3 linked regions of the Homo sapiens genome follow. The protein of the gene in region 2 interacts with the protein of the main gene of each other region in a pairwise test. Each region holds a gene or a part of one and is shown on either strand. Other genes may lie near its edges.

What was found.
Region 1: the proteins of PPP1R16B (region 2) and CRX interact in binary tests that used the Homo sapiens proteins (3 or more experiments, as listed by UniProt).
Region 3: the proteins of PPP1R16B (region 2) and CDCA7L interact in binary tests that used the Homo sapiens proteins (3 or more experiments, as listed by UniProt).

The regions. Positions count from the first base shown.
Region 1 is NC_000019.10:47,824,932-47,831,957, forward strand, and holds part of CRX (cone-rod homeobox protein), read left to right. Parts: intron 1-7,026. UniProt on the Homo sapiens protein: Transcription factor that binds and transactivates the sequence 5'-TAATC[CA]-3' which is found upstream of several photoreceptor-specific genes, including the opsin genes.
Region 2 is NC_000020.11:38,808,682-38,815,707, forward strand, and holds part of PPP1R16B (protein phosphatase 1 regulatory inhibitor subunit 16B isoform 1 precursor), read left to right. Parts: intron 1-7,026. UniProt on the Homo sapiens protein: Regulator of protein phosphatase 1 (PP1) that acts as a positive regulator of pulmonary endothelial cell (EC) barrier function. Involved in the regulation of the PI3K/AKT signaling pathway, angiogenesis and endothelial cell proliferation.
Region 3 is NC_000007.14:21,914,879-21,921,904, forward strand, and holds part of CDCA7L (cell division cycle-associated 7-like protein), read right to left. Parts: intron 2,017-7,026; coding exon 1,876-2,016; intron 1-1,875. UniProt on the Homo sapiens protein: Plays a role in transcriptional regulation as a repressor that inhibits monoamine oxidase A (MAOA) activity and gene expression by binding to the promoter.

The DNA.
Region 1 (7,026 bases), on a different chromosome or scaffold from region 2:
CCTGGACATTCTTTTTTTTTTTTCCTCCCCAGGAGACAGGTCCTCTTTCGATTGATTGATTTTTTTTTTTTTTTTTTGGGATGGAGTCGTGCTCTGTCGCCCAGGTTGGAATGCAGTGGTGCAATCTCAGCTCACTGCAGCCTCCGCCTCCCGAGTTCAAGAGATTTTTGTACCTCAGCCTCCCCAGAAGCTGGGACAACACCATGCCCGGCTAATTTTTGTATTTTTAGTAGACGGGGTTTCACCACGTTGGCCAGGCTGGCCTTGAACTCCTGACCTCAAGTGATCCGCCTGCTTCAGCCTCCCAAAGTGCTGAGCCACTGGCCTGGCCTGTTTTGTTTTGTTTTGAGAGAGGATCTTGCTCTGTTGCCCAGGCTGGAGTGCAGTGGCTGGATCATAGCTCACTGCAGCCTCCAACTCCTGGGCTCAAGCGATCTTCCCACCTCAGCCTCCCAGAGTGCTGGGATTACAGGTACGTGCCACCACGCCCAGCCCTCACTGGAGGCCCTTCTGTCATCAGCTGCCTCAGGTTGCTGCCAAACCCAGGGAAAGATTTCAGTGGATGTTCAATATTATTATTGTTATTATTCTCTGCTGACATCTTGTCTAGGCAGCACTTTATCATTATTATCAGCTGTTTGATCTGGGGCCCACACTTTCCTCCTGCTGAGCCTCCTCTCCCCTATCCGTTAAAAGGGATGATCCTGGCCAGGCACTGTGGCCCACGCCTGTGATTCCAGCACTTAGGGAGGCCGAGGTGGGCGGATCACCTGAGGTCAGAAGTTTGAGACCAGCCTGGCCAACATGGAGAAACCCAATCTCTACTAAAAATACAAAAAAAAAATTAGCCAGGCATGATGGCACATGCCTGTTGTCCCAGGTTGGGAGGCTGAGGCAGAAGAATCGCTTGAATCCGGGAGGTGGAGGTTGCAGTGAGCCAAGATTGCGCCACTGCACTCCAGCATGGGTGACAGAGACTCCGTCTCAAAATAACAACAACAACAAAAACAAAAACCCAGAAAGTGGTGATCGTAAATGTGAGCTTTCTTGGCTTTCCTGGAAGGTTAACTGCTTAGCCAGGCAATCTGACTCAGATTTGACGGCGAAGACAATGAAAGTGTGTGCTTTTGTTCCAGGCCCTGCAAATGGTCCCCAGTGGGGCAGGTTCACCAGTTTCCTTGTCTCCACTCTCTGGAGGTTCATATTTAACATTATTGGTTTTTGGAGAAGTGGGAGAGGACAGAGGGAACCCAGGTTAGGGGGCTGGGGGAATAGGACCTTCAGGAATTACTCTAGCCTTGAAATCCTGGATTCTCCACTGCCAGCCTGTGTGTGATCCCGGGTAAGTCACACTTTCGAGCCTGAAGATGTTCTCTAAACTGTAAGCATCAGGCAAAAGCAGTGTCTCATGCCTGTAATCTCAGCAATTTGGGAGGCTGAGGCAGGAGGATCTGCTCAGGCCAGGAGTTCAAGACCAGCCTGGGCAACATGGCAAGACACCTCTCTCTACACAAAAATTTAAAAAATTAGCTAGGCGTTGTGGCACACCTGTAGTCCCAGCTACTTGGGAGGCTGAGGTGGGAGGATGGCTTGAGCTCAGGAGGTCGAGGCTGCAGTGAGCTATGATTGTGCCACTGCACTCCAGCCTGGGTGACAGAGTGACATGCTGTCCCTAAGACCAAAACCAAAACCAAAATGTAAGCATCATAGTAATACAGTCTCTACCTCCCAAGGTTGTGCTGGGGATTTAATGACTACCTGTATAGAGAAGGCTTGTGTATTAGTTAACTATTGCTGGGTAACACTTATCCTAAAATTGAGCAGCTTCAAACAATAAACATTTCTGATCTCTTATAGTTTCCAAGGGACAGGAATCCAAGAGTGGCTTAACTGGATTATTCCGGCTCAGGGTGTTCCATGTGGTTGTGGTCAGATGTCGGCCAGGACTGAAGTCACTTAATGGCTTGGCTGAGGCTGGGGAACTAACCTCCATGGTAGCTTACTCTCATAGCTGTTGGCAGGAGGCCTCATTTCTTTGCCACATAGACCTCTCCGTGGGATGGCTTGAGCATCCTCACAACATGGCGGCTGGCTTTCCTTAGAGCTAGCCTTGGAAGCCACGCTCTGTCATTTCTGCAATATCCTGTTGGTTACACACGTCAGCCAGCTTGTTAGTAGGGACTACACAGGGCATGAATATCAGGGGGTAAGGATTATTGGGAGTTACCTTGGAGGCAGTTTGATTTTGGGGATTTAATGTAGCTGCTTTTGATTTTATTGTCAGCACTGAGCCTTCTCGTGACATTCCTACCAGGTTTTACTTGTTCTTTCTGCTTTTCTCCATGATCAATCTGCTATGGTCACACAGGGTGCCTTGTTTCTTCTCCAACAAGACCAAGTTGGAGACCCTGTCTTGCTCAGGGTGACGGTGTGAGATTCCAGCCTCCAAGCCTTTGCACCTGCTGTTTTTTTAATTTTTTTTTTTTGCCTGGAAATCTCTATTCCAGATCCACACAAATTCCTAGATGCCTCACCCACCCCAAATGCCTTCACTCTCATAACAACCTGTTTTATTTTCCTGGGAGTTCTTGAAACTTTCTGAAGGCTTTTTTTTTTTTTTTTTTTTTGACAGAGTCTTGCTCTGTTGCCCAGGCTGGAGTGCAGTAGTGCCATCTCAGCTCACTGCAACCTCCGCCTCCCGGGTTCAAGCGATTCTCAAGTAGTTGGGATTACAGGCACCCATCATCATGTCTGGCTAATTTTTGTATTTTAGTAGAGATGGGGTTTCACCATGTTGGCCAGGCTGATCTCAAACTCCTGACCTCAAGTGATCCTCATAACTCAGCCTCCCAAAGTGTTGGGATTACAGGCAAGAGCCCCTGCTCCTGGCCATGGCATCTTTATTAAAAAAAAAAAAAAAAAAAAAAAAAAAAAAAAAAAGGCAGGGCGTGGTGGCTCACGCCTGTAATCCCAGCACTTTGGGAGGCCGAGGCGGGTGGATCACATGAGGTCAGGAGTTCGAGACCAGCCTGGCCAACATGGTGAAACCCCATCTCTACTAAAAATACAAAAATTAGCCAGGTATGGTGGCAGGCCCCTGTAGTCTCAGCTACTTGGGAGGCTGAGGCAGGAGAATCACTTGACCCTGGGAGGCAGAGGCTGCAGTGAGCCGAGATCAAGCCATTGCACTCCAGCCTGGGGGACAAGAGTGAGACTTCATCTCAAAAAAAAAAAATTTTTTTTTCCTTGTTTGTTATTGGTTTCTCTAGGAACGGAACCAAGAAGTTCAATTCTATGAGAACAGAGAAGCTGCGGTCTTATTTCTTCCTATATTCCTAGTTCCTAGAGCAGGGAAGGCATTCAAAAAATATTTACTGAATGAACAGTAGAATCTCAACTTAAAATAAACAGAATCTGTCCCCCTCCTCATGTGAGGGATGAGAAGGAAAGGACAGTGAGAGGAACGGAAGAGTGGGAGCTCACAATAAACACCATCCATTTTTAATTCTTTTTCTTATGTTTCAAATATTTATTGGGGGTGCTGGGGACATGGCAGGAACCGAGATATTACCAGTCCCTGAACTCAGGTAACTGATAGAATTTGAGGGAGAGAGATAGATAAACAAACATATAAATATGTCGTTTAATACAAGCTGTGTCTTGAAGAAAAGGAGGTAGGGAGCGTGTGTGTGTGTGTGTAAAATCCAGTTTAGGGGCGTAGGTTGCTTTCTCTGGGGAAAGTAGCTGAGCTGAGACGTGGAGGAGAAGGGGTTAGCTGGTGAGAGGGGCTTTGGGGTGGGGGAGAGGCGTTCCTAGCCCAGGAAACGGCTTATGCAAATAGCTGTGGAGGGTGAGAGGTTTTCTGAGTCCATCCTAATGAGGGCAATGAGGAACCCTCAGAGGGTTTTCATGTTCTGTTTGCTTTTTTGAAGATTTTATTGTTGTTTTTGCTTTTGACAAGAACACACACACACACACACACACACACACACACACACACACACACACACAATTAAAAAGTAATCCAAACTATAGAGACAAGATATGGCTTTAGCATTCCTTCCCAGAGGCAGTCACTGGTGCCAGTAGCTTGCTTCCTTCCTGGGAATTTTCTACGCATATACAAGTGTATATTCTACACATGAGTAAAATCAATGCCTCATTTTGTTTATTAATTCATAATTATAATACTTATTATTTTTGAGATGGAGTCTCACTCTGCCTCCCAGGCTGGAGTGCACTGGCATAATCTCGGCTCACTGCAACCTCCACCTCCCAGGTTCCAGAGGGTCTCCTGCCTCCGCTTCCCAAGTAGCTGGGATTACAGGCATGCACCACCATGCCTGGCTAATTTTTGTATTTTTATTTTATTGTATTTTTATTTTTAAATTTACTTTATTATTATGACTCTTTTTTTGAGATGGAGTTTCGCTCTTGTTGCCCAGGCTGGAGTGCAATGGCGTGATCTCGGCTCACTGCAACCTCTGCCTCCCGGGTTCAAGTGATTCTCCTGCCTCAGCCTCTGGAGTAGCTGGGATTACAGGCGCCCACCACCACGCCTGCCTAATTTTGTATTTTTAGTAGAGACAGGGTTTTGCCATGTTGGCCAGGCTGGTCTTGAACTCTTGACCTCAGGTGATCCATCTGCCTCGGCCTCCCAAAGTGCTGGCATTACAGGCGTGAGCAACTGCACCTGGCCTATTTATTGTTATTATTGAGACAAGGTCTTCCTCTATTGCCTAGGCTGGTGTGCGGTGGCATGCTCATAGCTCACTGCAGTCTCCAAATCCTGGGCTCCAGTGATCCTCCTGCCTCAGCCTCCTGAGTAGCTGAGACTACAGGTGCGGACCACCATGCCTGACCAATTTTTGTATTTTTTTTTTTGTGGAGACAGCGTTTTGCCATGTTACCCAGGCTGGTCTCGAACTCCTGGGCTCAAGCAATCTGCCCACCTTGACCTCCCAAAGTGCTGAGATTATAGGTGTGAGACACAGCACCTGGCCATCTGCATTGTTTTAAAAATCACAAATGGTTGCGAGGTATACATACTGCCCAGCACCATACTTGTTTCCTTTGAATATATAAATATTATAATTTTATAATATTTATAATATATAATAACACAAATAATAATAAATATATATGGTTTGGTCATATACAATATATAAAATAACATTCACAAACACTTATTGTCAAAGTGCAATTAAATGGGAAAAAAAGAAAAACATTTGGCCAGGTGTGGTGGCTCATGTCTGTAGTCCTAGCACTTTGGGAGGCTGAGGTGGGAAGATCACTTGAGCCCAGGAGTTGGAGGCTGCAGTGAGCTATGGCAACGCCGCTGCACTCCGGCCTGGATGACAGAGGGAGACCTTGTCTCTTAAAAAACCCCAAAAAACAAATCTGATTCTCTGACGCATATATAATAAGCACAGGTCAAAGATTTATTTAAGTCATGAATGAAGGAACCAGCTGTTTCAAAGGAGAATTTGGGCCGGGTGCAGTGGCTCACGCCTGTAATCCCAGCACTTTGGGAGGCTGAGGTGGGTGGATCACGAGGTCAAGAGATTGAGACCATCCTGGCCAACATGGTGAAACCCCGACTCTACTAAAAATACAAAAATTAGCTGGGCGTGGTGGCGGGTGCCTGAGGTCAGGAGTTCGAGACCAGCTTGGCTAACAATGGTGAAACCTTGTCTTTACTAAGAATACAAAAAATTAGCTGGGTGTGGTGGCTCATGCCTGTAATCCCAGCTACTTGGGAAGCTGAGGCAGGAGAATAACTTGAACCCAGGAGGTGGAGTTTGCAGCAAGCCGAGATTGTGCCACTGCACTCCAGCCTGGGCGACAGAACAAGACTCCATTAAAAAAAAAAAAAAGGAGAATTTGATGAACAGAAGTTGATAGGTTTAGTCAGGAAAGACGGGCTGGAGAAAATTTGCCAGGTTAGATACAAAACTGGTTAAAGACCTACAGGACAATACAACTGTAACCTTTGAGGTTACCTTTTCTACCAGAGAGAAATCATTTGCAACCAAACTTCCTGGGGTTACCATTTACCTTGTCGAAGTCTAGACTCTAATCAATAATGAATAACAGACCGGGTGTAGTGGCTGACGCCTGTAATCCCAGCACTTTGGGAAGCCGAGGCAGGCGGATCACGAGGTCAGGAGTTCGAGACCAGCCTGGCCAACATGGTGAAACCCCGTCTCTACTAAAAATACAAAAATTAGCCGGGCATGGTGGCGCATGCCTGTAATCCCAGCTCCTCAGGAGGCTGAGGCAGGAGAATCGCTTGAACCCAGGAGGCAGAAGTTGCAGTGAGCCGAGATCGCGCCACTGCACTTTAGCCTGGGCGACAGAGCAAGACTCTGTCTCAAAAAAAAAAAAAAAAAAAAAGAATAGTAAATCAAATACAGGTACAGTCCCTTAGAATAGGGTCCCCAACCCCCGGTTTGTAGTCTGTTAGGCATGGGGTTGCACAGCTGGTGAGCAAGCATTACTGCCTGAGCCCCGCCTCCTGTCAGATCAGCGGTGGCTCTAGACTCTCACAGGAACGTGAACCCTATTGTGAACTGCACGTGCGAGAGATCTAGGTTGTACACTCCTTATGAAAATCTAAGGCACTGCCCACTCCCATCCATGGAAAAATTATCTTCTACGAAACCAGTTTTTGGTGCCAAAAAGGTTGAGGACTGCTGCCTTGGAATATGAAGCAAACTTTGGGTGGGTCTGTTAGACAAGACTCCCAGATGACTTGGAAATGGCATGCTGTCAGCTTTTTTTGTCTTATTGCCGAGCCTAGAACTTTTTTTAATTTTTATTTTTTTTGAGATGAAGTCTTGCTCTTGTCTCCCAGGCTGGAGTGCAGTGGCACGATCTGGGCTCACTGCAACCTCTGCCTCCCGGGCTCAAGCGATTCTCCTGCCTCAGCCTCCAGAGTAGCTGGGATTACAGGCGCCTGCCACCACGCCCGGATAATTTTTGTATTTTAGTTGAGACGTTTCACCATGTTGGCCAGGCTGGTCT
Region 2 (7,026 bases):
GTAATGCCTACTTTGTGGGATTGTAAGGATTCCATGAGACCATTAACACATAGAAAGTGCTCAGTACTAGGGTGGAGCATAGTGGCTCACACCTGTAATCCCAGCAGTTTGGGAGGCCAAGGCGGGAGGATCACTAGACGTCAGGAGTTCGAGACCAGCTGGCCAACATGGTGAAACCCCATCTCTACTAAAAATACAAAAATTAGTGCAGCATGGTGGCGCATGCCTGTAGTCCTAGCTACTTGGGAGGCTGAGGCACGAGAATTGCTTGAACCCGGGAGCAGGAGGTTGCAATGAGCCGAGATCACATGACTGCACTCCAGCCTGGGTGACAGAGCGAGACTCCATCTCAAAAAGAAAAAGAAAAAAAAAAGTGCTCAGTACAGCATCTGGTGTGGGTAGGAATGCAGGAAATGATCATTGTCACCATCACTACTATTTCCTCCTTTGTGTTGGACTCTCAAAGGTCCCACCTCCTCCAGTGCTAGGGTGGGGAGTGAGTGCGACCCTGTCTCTTCTGCCTGTAGCCATCAGGACGGGGAAAGCCTCTCAGCCTGTCTCCTGGGGCGGGGGTGGGGGCTCACTCCTGGGAACTTGAGTCTAGCACCAGCTTTTCCCCGGGGAGTCTGTGAGCAGCCACTTAGCCTTTCTCAGCTGACTGCCATTTTCCAGGATTCATTGATTCATTCAAAAGACGTTTATTCCATCCCAGCCCTTGTGCTTAGCAAGGGATTTCAAGATGAATGAGGCAGCTCTCAGAGTTCTCCCTCTATGGGGAGAGGCAGGCCTGGAGACAGATAATGAGGACACTGTGGGATAAAGGCTGCAACAGCAAGAAGAGAGAGTGACGAGCAGATCCACATGGCTCAGGCTGACCCAGGTCTGAATCTTGAAGCTGCCACCTTGTAGCTGGGTGAGGATGGACAGAGGCCTTACCTCTCAAGCAGATAAGCCACCTCCCTAAGATGATGATGTGAGGAGAGAAGTGAGACACTGTGGATAAAAAACCTAGCTTGGACCAGGTGCGGTGGCTCATGCCTGTAATCCCAGCAATTTGGGAGGCAGAGGTGGGCAGACTGATTGACTCCAGGAGTTCGAGACTAGCCTGGGCAATATGGCAAAACCCCGTCTCTACAAAAAATACAAAAAATTAGCCAGGCATGGTGGTGTGCACCTGTAGTCCCAGCTACTTGGAAGGCTGAGGTGGGAGAATCACCTGAACGGGGGAAGTGGAGGCTCCTGTGAGCCATGATTGCGTGCACCTCTGCACTCTAGCCTGGGCAACAGAGTAAGACCTTGTTTCGAAAAAAAAAAAAAAAAAAAAACAAAACCAAAAAACTTAAAAACCCAGCTTGGGCTTTCTAGATATTAATAAGTGCTCACAGATGTTCGTTGCTATTATTAGTCTATTATTGCCAATAACAGGTGGGCAAAAGTTGCTGTGGGAGCATGTTGAGCCCTTCAGTGACAGTTTTCCAGGTGGTAGGGCAGCCCTAGCCGGGAGAACAGCATGTGCAGAGGCACCGAGGCTTAAAAGTGCTGGATGTTTTTGGAGAGCAGTGGGAGGAGTTGCTGATGGAGCAGAGTCATGAGAAAGTTTGATGGAGGCAGAAGCAAGGCCAGGGAGGTAGCAGAGGCTATCCTGCCGGGAGCCCCGAAGGATTAAACACTCACTGACCCGAGGCAGTCCCTCTGCACCTTCCTTGGAGGGTGGTTCTCTAGTGAGGGTTGTCCAGGAAACTTCAGGATTAACTTTTGCATGGGAGGAAGGGCTGGTCTCTGCTCAACTATCCATACATTCACCATCCTTCCCTCTTCATTCCACCCAGGAAGCACGAAGAAGAAGAGGTCCACTCCCTCTTCCTGAGATGCTTTTCCCACCTCTGCACTTGTTTCTCTCTTCCTGGGACTCAGTTTCTCACCTGAGAGAAGAGGGTAGAAGTGGAGGAAGCGTCATGACCTGACTCACTGATTGATCATGATATAGCACCAAGTGCATTTCTGGATGCTGGTCACTGTCAAAGGTCTTTACTTGCATCGCCATTGAATTCTCATACCAATCCGTTGAAATGAATGCACTTATCCCCCACTGCACAGAGGGAGAAACCGAGGCACAGAGGGTGAGGCAATTTGCTAAAGGGCATGCAGCTTGTAAGTGACAGGAACTCACGTCTTGGGGGGCATCTCAAAGTTGCCATGTGCTATCCTTCACCACCTTCTTCACACACTTTGTAAATCTAAGGCTGACTGCAGAATATCTGGCCTCTTTTGCTTTGTGTACCTTTGGGCGCTGGGCAGTAGGCATTTTGGAGATGGGTCACAGTGGGGTGTGCTCTGGGTATGTAACCTGACTTTGGGGAAATTCCTGGGTGCAGACGCTTTGTGGGGAGGTGTTCTTGGATGTCTCAGAATCTAGAATGGCATTCCTTCGCCCACAGATGTGCCTTGATGCAGGCAATGTGCAGCTTGATTGATGTGGCAAGATGGTGGCTGAGCCCCACGGTGGCCCCAGGAAGGAATGAATGAATCTTTTAGGATGGCTGATCAGAGCATCACATGACCACAGACCCTCCCTGTTTCAGAGGACATCCAAACACAGGCTTACATTTCCTTTTACATGGGGGCAAAGTTTGGGGCCAGGGTTCAAATGCTGGCTCTGCCTCCACTGGCTTTGGGGCCTAGGGAAATTTTTTCACTTCCTTGAACCTTAATTTCTTCATCTGGAAATAAAGATGAAGAAATAAGTTGCTAATTTTAGCATCTTCAATAAGTTGCTAAATAGTAACTCACAAACACAATTCTGAATTGTCATAAGGATTTGTAATCATATGGAAAATGCTTGGCTTCCAAGCTGTAGATAATATTGATGTAATATCCAGCAGATTTTTCTCTGCAGTACTTATAATTGTGATTATATGGTTATATGTGAGCATTACTCTTTTAGTCTTCTGTTTCATCCACTAGACCTGTGGTTCTCAACTTGGGGCAGTTTGACCCTCCCCAGGGGATATTTGGCAATGTCTAAAGACGTTTTTGGTTGTTACAACTTTTCGGGGGATAGTGGGGGAGAGGAGCTACTGACATCCAGTGAGTAGACACCAGGGGTGCTGCTAAATATCCTGTGGTGCACAGGAGAGCACCCCCACAACAGAAAATGATCTGATCCCAAATATCAATAGTGCTGAGGTTAAGAAAGACTACACTGGACGATGAGCCCCATAAGGTCCGTGACTGTGTCCAATTCATTCAGCTGTGTGTCTCCAGTTGGCCAGCGTGATCAGCATGATGTCCAGCACACAGGAGACAATCAATATGCATTAAAGGAATGAATGAGGACTTGGAAGGCCTTATGTCCCCTGGAGTCCCAGGGGTTTAGCTTGTGGAACATTTTGAATAGGCAGAAGAGATTTAGATGAACTTGAATGATGAACAGCCAATTAGTAACTCAGGCCAAAGACATTCAGACCGAGCTCTCTGTTTTCCTTCCCAAGCAGGTGCTTGGGGGCCCAGATTATCTGAATTGTTCCTGCCATCACCACTGCATTTTACCCATGTAGATACAGGACCCGTCTTTATCTGGAAAGTAGGCTGGGGCAGAGGAGCATAGGTGCTGTCAGCTGGGCCCTTGGGATTTGCCAAGCTGGGGCACAGCTGCTTGTCAGCTTCCTGTTTTGTCCCTTTCTAGTGGAATGAAGGAAACCCACTGAATGGCTATTTTCCACTGACATTTACAGCAATGTGATAGGCCTTGGATTAATGAGGTCAAACTGCAGTGTGAAATCTGCCTGATAACTTGAAGCTTGGCCAACGGGAAGACATCGCTTGTTTTCTTTGGACCGTTTGATGTCCCTGGATGGCTTTAGGCAGGAAAGCAGGGGTCTCAATTCTGTACGAAAGAGGAGGGTGTTTTACTTCCTGGAATTATAGAGGCCAGAGGTGTCTCTTTTTCAATTTATTGGGAAGGTTTATTTTAATATGGACTTAGAAATAAATAACTTATTAAAGTGAAGGTTCACCTGGAGCCTTAGGCTGGCTGCTAAGTGTGAGTCTGGGCTGTTGAAGGGACTGTGCTGTTCTTCTGGGTCTCTGTAGGAGTTTGAAGGAGAAGACTGGCCCCAAAGGGTGTTTGAACAGGTTAGATGTGCCCATTGGTTAGAACTTACTTGGATAGGGAGAAGGGATCTAGGGCGTATCCACAAACTTGCATATGGATCCCCTTTGGTTTCCTGCTAAAATGCAGAAACTGACTCAGTAGGGCTGGGTATGGAGTTTTCTGCATTTCTACCAAGCTCCCAGGGGGTGTCAAGCTGCTAGTCTGTGAACTGCACTTTGAGAAGCAAGGGTATGGGAGACCCCAAGTCTACAGGTGAGGGTTCCCTGGTGCAAACCGCTTAAGCATGAAAGCAAATGCAGCCTGTTGTGCCTGTTCACACAGCCATCTGCTGTGCTGGCTGGCTTGCGGAGTCACAGATGTTCACTGTGCCCCTTCTCTGTGTGCCCAGGCCTGGGACCAGACTTGACAAAGAGGATGCTTGGTCTCAAGGAGCAACTCAGACAGCCAGAATGTCAGCTAGAATGATGAGCTTTGAGTACTTTCAAAAACATGTATCCAGGTACATGGTGTTCCTGGGTCATCTGGTCACCTGGGACTTGTGAGAAGTACAGATGCCTGGGCCTTAGCCCAGTCCACCTGTGTTAGAATCAGCCAATATAGGGCCCTGAAAGTCTGTATTTTCTCAAAGTGTGCCAGGTGATTCTGATTCACAGCCAGACTGATGGAAGGGAAGGTGGGAGGAAGAACTGCCAGTACATGCAGGTTAATTGCTCAGCAGGACCTATGTAAGGTTGTAGAGTTGTGTATTGCTGATGGGCACAGTGGCACTCGGCTAAAGGAGAGGCTGAAATCTAGCCTGTGGATCCACTTGCCAAGCTCTGCACCCTGCAGGGTTGCATCTGCTTAGAGGGACGGGCACCTTTTTCTTAATATTCATCATAATCACTTGGTACTTATTATGAGCCAGGTGCTGTCTACTTAACTCCTTTAGTCCTCCTAACAACTCTAAGGGGTGACATCATCATCATCATCATTATTATTATTATTATTATTATTATTATTATTATTATTATTATTTTGAGACACAGTCTCACTCTGTCGTCCAGGCTGGAGGGCAGTGGTGCCATCTCGGCTCACGGCAACTTCTGCTTCCCGGGTTCAAGTGATTCTCCTGCCTCAGCCTCCTGAGTAGCTGAGATTACAGGCACCCGCCACCACTCCTGGCTACATTTTGTATTTTTAGTAGAGAAGGGGTTTCACCATGTTGGCCAGGCTGGTCTCAAACTCCTGACCTCAAGTGATCCACCCGGCTCGGCCTCCCAGGGTGTTGGGATTACAGGCATGAGCCACTGTGTCTGGCCAGGTGTGACTTTAGTGCTACTCTGATTTTACTGTTCAGGAAAGTGAAGCAGAGAGGTTCAATGTCTTACTCAAGGTCACACAGCCAGTAAATGGAAAAGTCAGGATTCCATTTCAGGACATCCGGCTTCAAAGTCCTTGTACTGAATCATTACACTCTCTGGCCCTTTCTTTGCATAAAAATGCTGTCTTCTCTTTATGGGGCTATCCCTACTCTGAGGGAGTACCTTTTTTCTTGTCCTTCCTTCAGAGGGGGGAAGGCTAGCAATGACCTTGGCTGGCTTTAGAGTCAGGTACGGGTTTGATTCCTACCTCCAGCACCTACTGCAACCTTGAGTAAGTTACATGTGTGTATTTGCTGAGCCACAATTTCCCCATATGTAAAACAGGAATAATAATAGTATAATATAAATTGATATGATTAGGCATTTAGCCTCTGCTTGGCAGGTAGGAGGTACCTGATACATGCCAACTATTCTTATGGCATTATTATCATTAGAGTTAGTCCCTAGGAGTATTCAGGAGCTAGGGAAATAGGTGAGCAAAGCACTGTGTCATTATGTCCCCAGGAGCTGGGTCATTCATTTTGTTCACTAGGTTACTTATGGCCATTACTTACCTGGGCATCCCTAGTCTCCTCCGCTTCTTGGCCCCAGAGTCTGTGCCAGCCTGGAGAGTTCTCAGAATGTCTTAGTTCAGACTCTTAGTCAGAACTGCCTTTGTTTCCTCACATCCAAGAACAAGTAAAACATACAAATTTTGACACTTATTCTCTTTAGGTCTCTTGACTCTTTTTGGTGACTTTCTCTGTCTCCTGTTTTCTTTCTGGAACTATTGCTGTCGTTGGCTATCCCATGGACTGGATAGAGAGGAAATGTTGCCTTATAAACATTGCCAATTACCTTATAAAAATATAGGGAAGATTTTCACCAAAATGTCATTCATTTTTTTTCTTTTATATATAAACTTAAGCTTTTGTTTTCCTATGGCTGTATGTCATGCTTTTTAATTACACAAAGTATATAAGTGTATCATAAGTAAACTTTCCCCATCTTCTCAGCCACTCATCCCTTTTCCCCGGAATAAATCTATAAATGTTTTATGTATTTTTCCATAAATTTCATATGCATATATAAACCCATATTCATTTACATGTTTATCCATTTTTCTTTTTAACACAACTATACAAAACTCTCCTGAGATCTTCTTTTTCAGCTAATTTATCTGAGCACATGCCAACACACAGATATACCTGGATCTTTAAGGCTATCTGATAGTCCAGTGATAAAAATGTACCATCATTTGTTTTCTAGTTTCTTGATGATGGCTAAGATAGTTTCCAGTTTTTTTCCTCCTACAAATGTATAATGTTGCAACATCCTTGTTTGAACAGTGTATATATCTTTGTATACTCTACATACTGATGATTTTATTCATAAGGAAAATTCCTGGCAGTTTCAACTGTGATAGACATTGCTAACCTGTTCTCCAAAGAGGCTGAACCAATTTCTGTTTCCTCAACAGTGTATGACTGTTTCCCCCATCTATTCTCCAGCACTGAGGATTAAGTAACTTTCATTTTTGTCAGTCTGACAGATATAAAGCAGAACATT
Region 3 (7,026 bases), on a different chromosome or scaffold from region 2:
CATCATAGCAGCAGAAGCAGCTGTTCTGTTTCTTAATGCCCGGTGCCTGCCAGGCTCTGTGCTCGGCCCTTTAGACATGTTCTGCCTTGCTCAAATGCTCCTCAAGGTGGATCCAACAGGCTCTGCTCTCCCCACCGCCTGACTGTGCTCAGATGGAGGGCTAAGGGAGGAGCTGACCGGAGGTCAATCCTATAACAGATCCTAGTAGGAAGGGATGAGCATTCGGGTAAGAGCTACGAGGGCTACGGCAGCTGCAGAGGGAAGGGAAGGATGGACACCAGGAACACAGCAGAAGTTTCATCAACTCCTGGACGGGAGTCAAGGAGATGGAAGAGGGGAGGGAAGGCCAAGAACAAAAGATGGAAATCAAGATGGGGAAAGGGGGAAGCCAGAAAGACAACCAAGGGAAGGAGAAGTGAGTTTCAGATCTCCCTTAGCAACCAGGACCAGTCCAACTGGTAGTCAGAAACCACCTGGGGCTGGAGAGAGAAGACAAGCTCCACAAAAGAATACAGTAACAGCTCAAAGCAGGACAACAGACAAGATTCACTAAGTGAGAAGACTGAAGACAAACCCTTAGAGAACATCTGCATTTAGGGACACGAACAGGGAAAACAAGTGACAGTAACAAAAAGCAGGCCAGGTACAGTGGCTCACGCCTCTAATTCCAGCACTTTCGGAGGCCAAGGCGGGCAGATCACCTGAGGTCGGGAGTTTGAGACCAGCCTGGCCAATATGGCAAAACCCCATCACTACTAAAAAAAAAAAAAAAAAAAAAAAACACACACACACACACAAATTAGCCAGGCGTGGTGGTGGGAGCCTGTAATCCCAGCTACTCGGGAGGCTGAGGCTGGGAAAATTGCTTGAACCCGGGAGGCAGAAGTTGCAGTGAGCCAAGATCATGCCACTGCACTCCAGCCTGGGTGACACAATGATACTCCATCTTGGAAAGAAAGAAAATAATAATAACAAAGAGCAAAAGGTGTAACAGAGAGGAAGAAACCCAGGTGGTTAGAAGGAGGTCTACTGGTGGGGTCAACTGCTGTGGAGATGCCAAATGAGATGAGGACGACAGAGACCAGGGAGCCTCCAGAGATCTCAGAAAGCACAGCTCCCACCAGGCCAGAACTTACAGTGGCCCACGTAATTAAGCAGGCACTTCACTTACATATAATTAACTGCTTCCCTTCCTGGACTTGCCCAGTGGAAGCAAAGTGGGTTTAATTTGCTGCCTTTTTGGAGAGGCCATGGTCAAGGCAGAATGAGGAATTTTGAGTGCCACAATTAACTCAGAAGAAAATGCCACTGAAGGGTAGAGATTTTGGCCATTCTACTACTAGGACACAATGTGAACCTCCAGGAATCTACCTGTCAGAGAACTCTAACTTGTGAGTGCTAGAGATCAAAGTAATTAACGCAAGAATAAGGCTCTCCCCAGCAATTCCAAGAGGACATGCCAACAGAATTGCACCACGGGACCACAGAGGTGTAATTGTCTCCCCGTAACCACACAATCCCTCATGCCTCGCCGCAGCCTCGCCTCTGTGGGAAGACCCTGAACACAGCCTCGCCACAGGTTACAGCCCCAAGGCAGCCAAGAAAATGCACTTGATCATGTGAGGTCCCTTTATTTAAAAAAAAAAAAAAAAAAAAAAAAGAATTATGGTACAGGGAAGGATTAACACAGCAAAGTGAACGAGGTTCTCTCACCAGTTTTTTAAAACAGGAAGACACAGACATAATGTTTCTAAAATAAAATGCTAGACAATGAACTGATATCACCAATCTCACACCATGTTCAAATAAAAGAACATCCAAACCAAGATTCAGGCCTCCAGATGAACACATCTGCTTGGAAGGAATCATCCATACCTGTTTCCCTGACTCTAGTGAGTCAAAACTATCGCAGCTCTCCTCTGACGAGAGGGTTTCCATGGGAACATCATCTCGGAAGCCAACAAACTCTTCATCATCACTGGGGGCGTTAAAGATGTCAGCCACTTCTTTAGGGATCTGTTTTGGATTCAAAAGAGGCAGGATTAAACCAGGGGTTCTTGCTAATCACTTAGGGACATTTTCTGGAGGGGAGGAGAGATCTCATCACTTCATCCAACTGCCACGGTTGCCCAGAAGTCCCCAGTAACCCTCAGCAAAACACTCTTCAGCTAAGAACTCATGGCAAAATAAGGTGTGGGGTGGGTGGGGGAGATAAAACTTAAAATTCTAGATATACACCCTATTTTACAGAGAATGTTAAAACCAGGCCAGAGAGAAGACATGTTTGATCTCTTGACAAAAAGAAAAATTGTTTCTAAGAACCAATGATCTCTTTTTTCTCCTACAGTGGATGCATCTTTAAATGTCATCTACATAAAAAAGATGCCATAAAATATCATTAAGCACTTTTCTTAATGTTCACCTACACTATTTATTTTTCTCTTCTTTGTCATAGGCTGATTCAGAAAGTAGAAAGTTCATACAATGAAATAAGTAGCTTTTCTTCTTTTCTATATTGTAAGTCAACTTAAGTAGCTGGGGATTAATTCTAACAGAATTCAAATGCTATTAGGGGATAATTGATCCCAGAGAGAACAATGTCAGCACACTTAATCCACAAATATGTATCTGCTGGAGTTCATTTTTGTAAGTTGACTATTTTCTCCCAATTCTTTGTTTTAAAAAAGTTCAAACACACAGAAATGTGAAAAAATAGTACAAACACCTGTTGATTCTTTATCTAGACCCATTATTGGTCACTGCATTTGCTTTCTTTCTCTGTTTCAACAAATATTAGGTTGAACCATGGGCATTTGCTGATATTTGGCTGTTTTTAACTTAGGAAAATAGCAATTTAATATGAGCCAACCTAATCCATATATTCCCACACATTGATTAAAGTAATTTGCAAACATTGTATTGATTGGCCCGAATATAATTCAGCACATATCTCCCACGGATAAGGACATTCTCCCATAGAACCACAAAACCATAATTGTACCGAAAATAATTAACATTAATTCAATAGTACGATTTACTGTAACTCTATATTTTAATATCTGCAACTGTTCTATTTGATTTTTATGACACTGTTTTTTGTTGTTTTTCACAACACTGACTTTCTTTTTAGATAGACCATGACAACTGCCTTGTAGAATGTCATGTATTCTGAGCTTATCTGAGTGTTTCCTCATGATTAGATTCAGGTTATGTATTTTTGTCACCATTCTACATAGGTGACATGTACTCCTCAATGCATTGCATAAGGGGGCACAAAATGTCAAGTTATCCCACTATTAATTAGTAATTTTTAAAAAATTTTTCATTATAAAAACTTTCAAAGATATTTCAAAAGTAGATGGGAAGATATTGTAATGAGCACACATTGATCCTCCCCGTAATTATCTGCCCAAGGCTAACTGTGCTTCCCCTGGATCCCGACCCAACTCCCCTTCTTCTAAATTATTGTGAGGCAACTGTAGACATAGTATCATGTCACTCTGTATCATCATCAAATGTGCAGTCTGTATTCACAGTTCTTCTGCCTCATTTTTTAAAAACTTAGTTTATCTGCATCATGATCCAAATAAGGTTCACACTGATCAACATGGCTCTTAAATCCCTTCTCATCACTCCTTTATCTCTTTTCTCTTGCAGTTTATTTTTGAAGAAGCTGGGTCACTTGACTGTGGAGTCTGTCCAAGTCTGAAGTTTTATTTTTTTTGCATCCCCAAGGTGGTGTTTAACAGACTCATTTGGGTTTACAATTTGGGAGTTGAATCCGGAGGCTTTACTTCTAGTTGGCTTGCTTTTGCCAAGACTACTTTTTAGGAAGTGCTATGTTCTTCCTTTGGAAAGCACATAAGGTCTGGCTGTCTCTTTTTTTAGTGATGTTGCTGTTTGGTCAATAAGTTAAGGTGGAATCAGCCTGATTTGTTCTTCGCTTTTAAAACAAAACAAAACAAAAAACAATAACAACAACAAAAAACACCCTTTCTCCTTTGTCACTAATAAGGAATATGCAGAGTGAGACTTGAGATTCTGTGAATAGCCTCCCTGATAACATCTTGCTCAACAGTTTCAGCGTCCATTGACAATTCTTTTTTTTTATATTTTTTATTTTAATAAAGACAGGGTCTATGTTACCCAGGCTGGTCTCAAATTCCTTGCCTCAAGTGATCCTCTCACCTCAGCCTCCCAAAGTGCTGGGATTACAGGCATGAGCCAGGGCACCCTTGAATGAATTATTACATTAGGGACTGCAAAAGAGAAATTTTCAGATTTTCTCTCTCCTTCACAAAGTAGCTGGCATTCTTGTATAATATAGTCTTTCTCTCACTCTCCCCCTTTTCTTCTACCATGTATATCCATGGATTTCTAAAAATTATTATTAAATGTGTTATAATCCATACTCTCATAATGCTGACTGTCCCAAATTTGGCCATTGGGAGCTTCTTGGAAAGTCATCCTCTGTCTTTCTGACATGGCACTAAGGGTCTTTCAACACCTCCTTGCTTTCTGACACAAGCATGGCAAGCTAACCTTGTATGTTTCCTGTCCCAGACCTCAAATCAGCCATTTCTCCAAGGAGCCCTGAAACCTTTCACTGGGAAATGGCATTTAAAAACCAAGCTCGGAGAACACAATGCATCTCGGTTAATTAAGTATCACTGCTTGTAGGCTCTTTGGACAGAGCAAGGATATTTTAAATAGGTAAATCACAAGTTCATGGTGACACCCTGAATTCAAATCCAACACGGAGGCTTCTTCCTCTGCTCCCTCATCTCTCCCTCATCTCACATTAGCATCGCCGTTCCACCACAAGGAAAACCCTCGATTCCCAAAATTTTTAATATACTTATCCATGTGGTGCTCTATCTACAATAAACACAAAATAGCGCCAAACTGACGCCACCAATATACTACCAACAACAAACAGTGCAGTTCAAGATTTCTTTGCAGTTCTTTCTAGCCCTGGAACATAGTCTCACTATACACAGGATCTTTTCCTTCAGCTAACCAGATGATCATTGTACATGGTTATGCAAAAATGTTTCACATGTACTTCCCATTTCATCATGCAGTATATTAAAAAGATGTCCTTAACAGTTGAGACTTAATAATTTTTACTGTTTCATCAGAACATTCTTATGTGAAACTGACATTTTCTTTTTAAATTGAGTGCATGGAGGTGAATGCAATGACTACTAATACAGTTTGTTGCTACCACCTGGATTCATGCTAAAGATCAGCAGTTTTCTCCACTTTGGCTTTTGCACAATCAGTGCAAATATCAACACAGCAAAAAGGGCAAATAATCTTAGTATTATTATGACATTACATTCGCCCTCATGGACCCGTGAAAGGGTCTCAGGTCCTCCATCTCACACTTTGACCACTGCACTAGCATATACAGAGTTGTGTATTCAAAAGCTACTTAGCTTCGTGGAATTCTCTGTGTGGGTGTGTTGACTTAATTTTACATTTAGTCAGGTTCCATTTAGGAAACTGGTAATCCTTAATCTATTTACTTTCATCCTTATTTTAATGCTTCTTGATTAAAAATAATTAGAAAATAATGGTTCAATCAAAGGAAGTGTAACATAAATACAGAAATGGGATACCCCAAGTTCAGTGATGCTGAAGGGTTAATACAAACACTTTCCCACCATCTAATAAAATCACTGCAAGGGACAAACAAGAACAACACTTACAGAAGTAGAGTTCCACTAACAATTTTTTTACCAGCCACACGTAGTGCAGCACTAGCAAAGCCTAACTCTGACATCATTCTTGGGGAAAATATTGAAACTTTTCTCAAGGAGGTATGTTAAACAATGTTTGCCACCTTATCTTTTCAAAGACACCTTTTGTTGTTGTTTAGCACTCAGAACTAATACGCAAGGAAAACACCCAGACTAGAGAAACACAGACAATACTTATGAAAGTGTGCCTATGTTGTAGCTACATAATAGCCACTGAGTTCAGTCCCTGCAGAGGCACTAAGAGGGACAGTGTGTCAATTTCAGTCTTTTTCTTTTGGCCTTCTCACCATTCTACAAAATTCAAACAGCCCTGCTGGCCCAGAAGCTTCTTTTAACATAAATGGTTTAAAGGAGGAGGAGCACCCCATTTATGGATTTAATGGAAATACATACAAGGAATGGAGAGGGTTGGTGATAGGAATAAACTGCTTCCAGCAGCAACTGCATTAGTCCCTGTGCTATTGTGTTCAGCCCCACCACTGCTGCGAGCCTGTGTCTGACTAGCTAATTCCTCCTTCTGCATCTTTGACTTCTGCATCTGCTCCAGAGGTACCATTAGGGGGCTATAATTACTGATTAGGAACAAAAGGAAAGAGCACACTTTCAAAAAAACGGTGTGCATTCCTGGGGTACGCAGGGCTCTGATCCTTCAAAAGGTATTAAAAGAGTTTCAGATAGTCACAAGCTTCAAGATTTGCCAAAAAAAAAAAAAAAACTGTAAAATATTCAAGTGTCCTCAATGCAACGAACTGATTTGTCTAACAGATGCAACAAAGGCAGCAAGATTTATATGAGAAGGACCTGATAGAAAGGATACACAGGGACCTCTTCTAATGAATGACCAGTTCCACAACACAGTGATACATTAGGCCCAAGGATCTGTCACTTTCCTGTTCCATTCAGCAGCGATCCACTGGGTAGCTGCATAGTCTAGACAAAAATGCAAGACCTTTTTTTTTTTTTTTCAAAGTTTGTGTTCCATTCTATTACAATAAAGCCAATCATAAGACTCACCAAAAAGAAAACTACAACAAGTAACTGAAAACAACAAAAATACAAAATTTCTCAATCAATGGATATTTACATTAGTTGAACTTCTGAATTAGGATAACTACTATCTAGTGAACCAAAAAAAAAAGGGAAAATTCTCATCTGAAAGTGAAAAGACCGTTTCATTATTTATAATACTTGTTAAAAATCGACAACTTCATGCTATTCCTTTCATGTACAGTTTCTGTTTGTCTACTCTGTCTTTATTGGA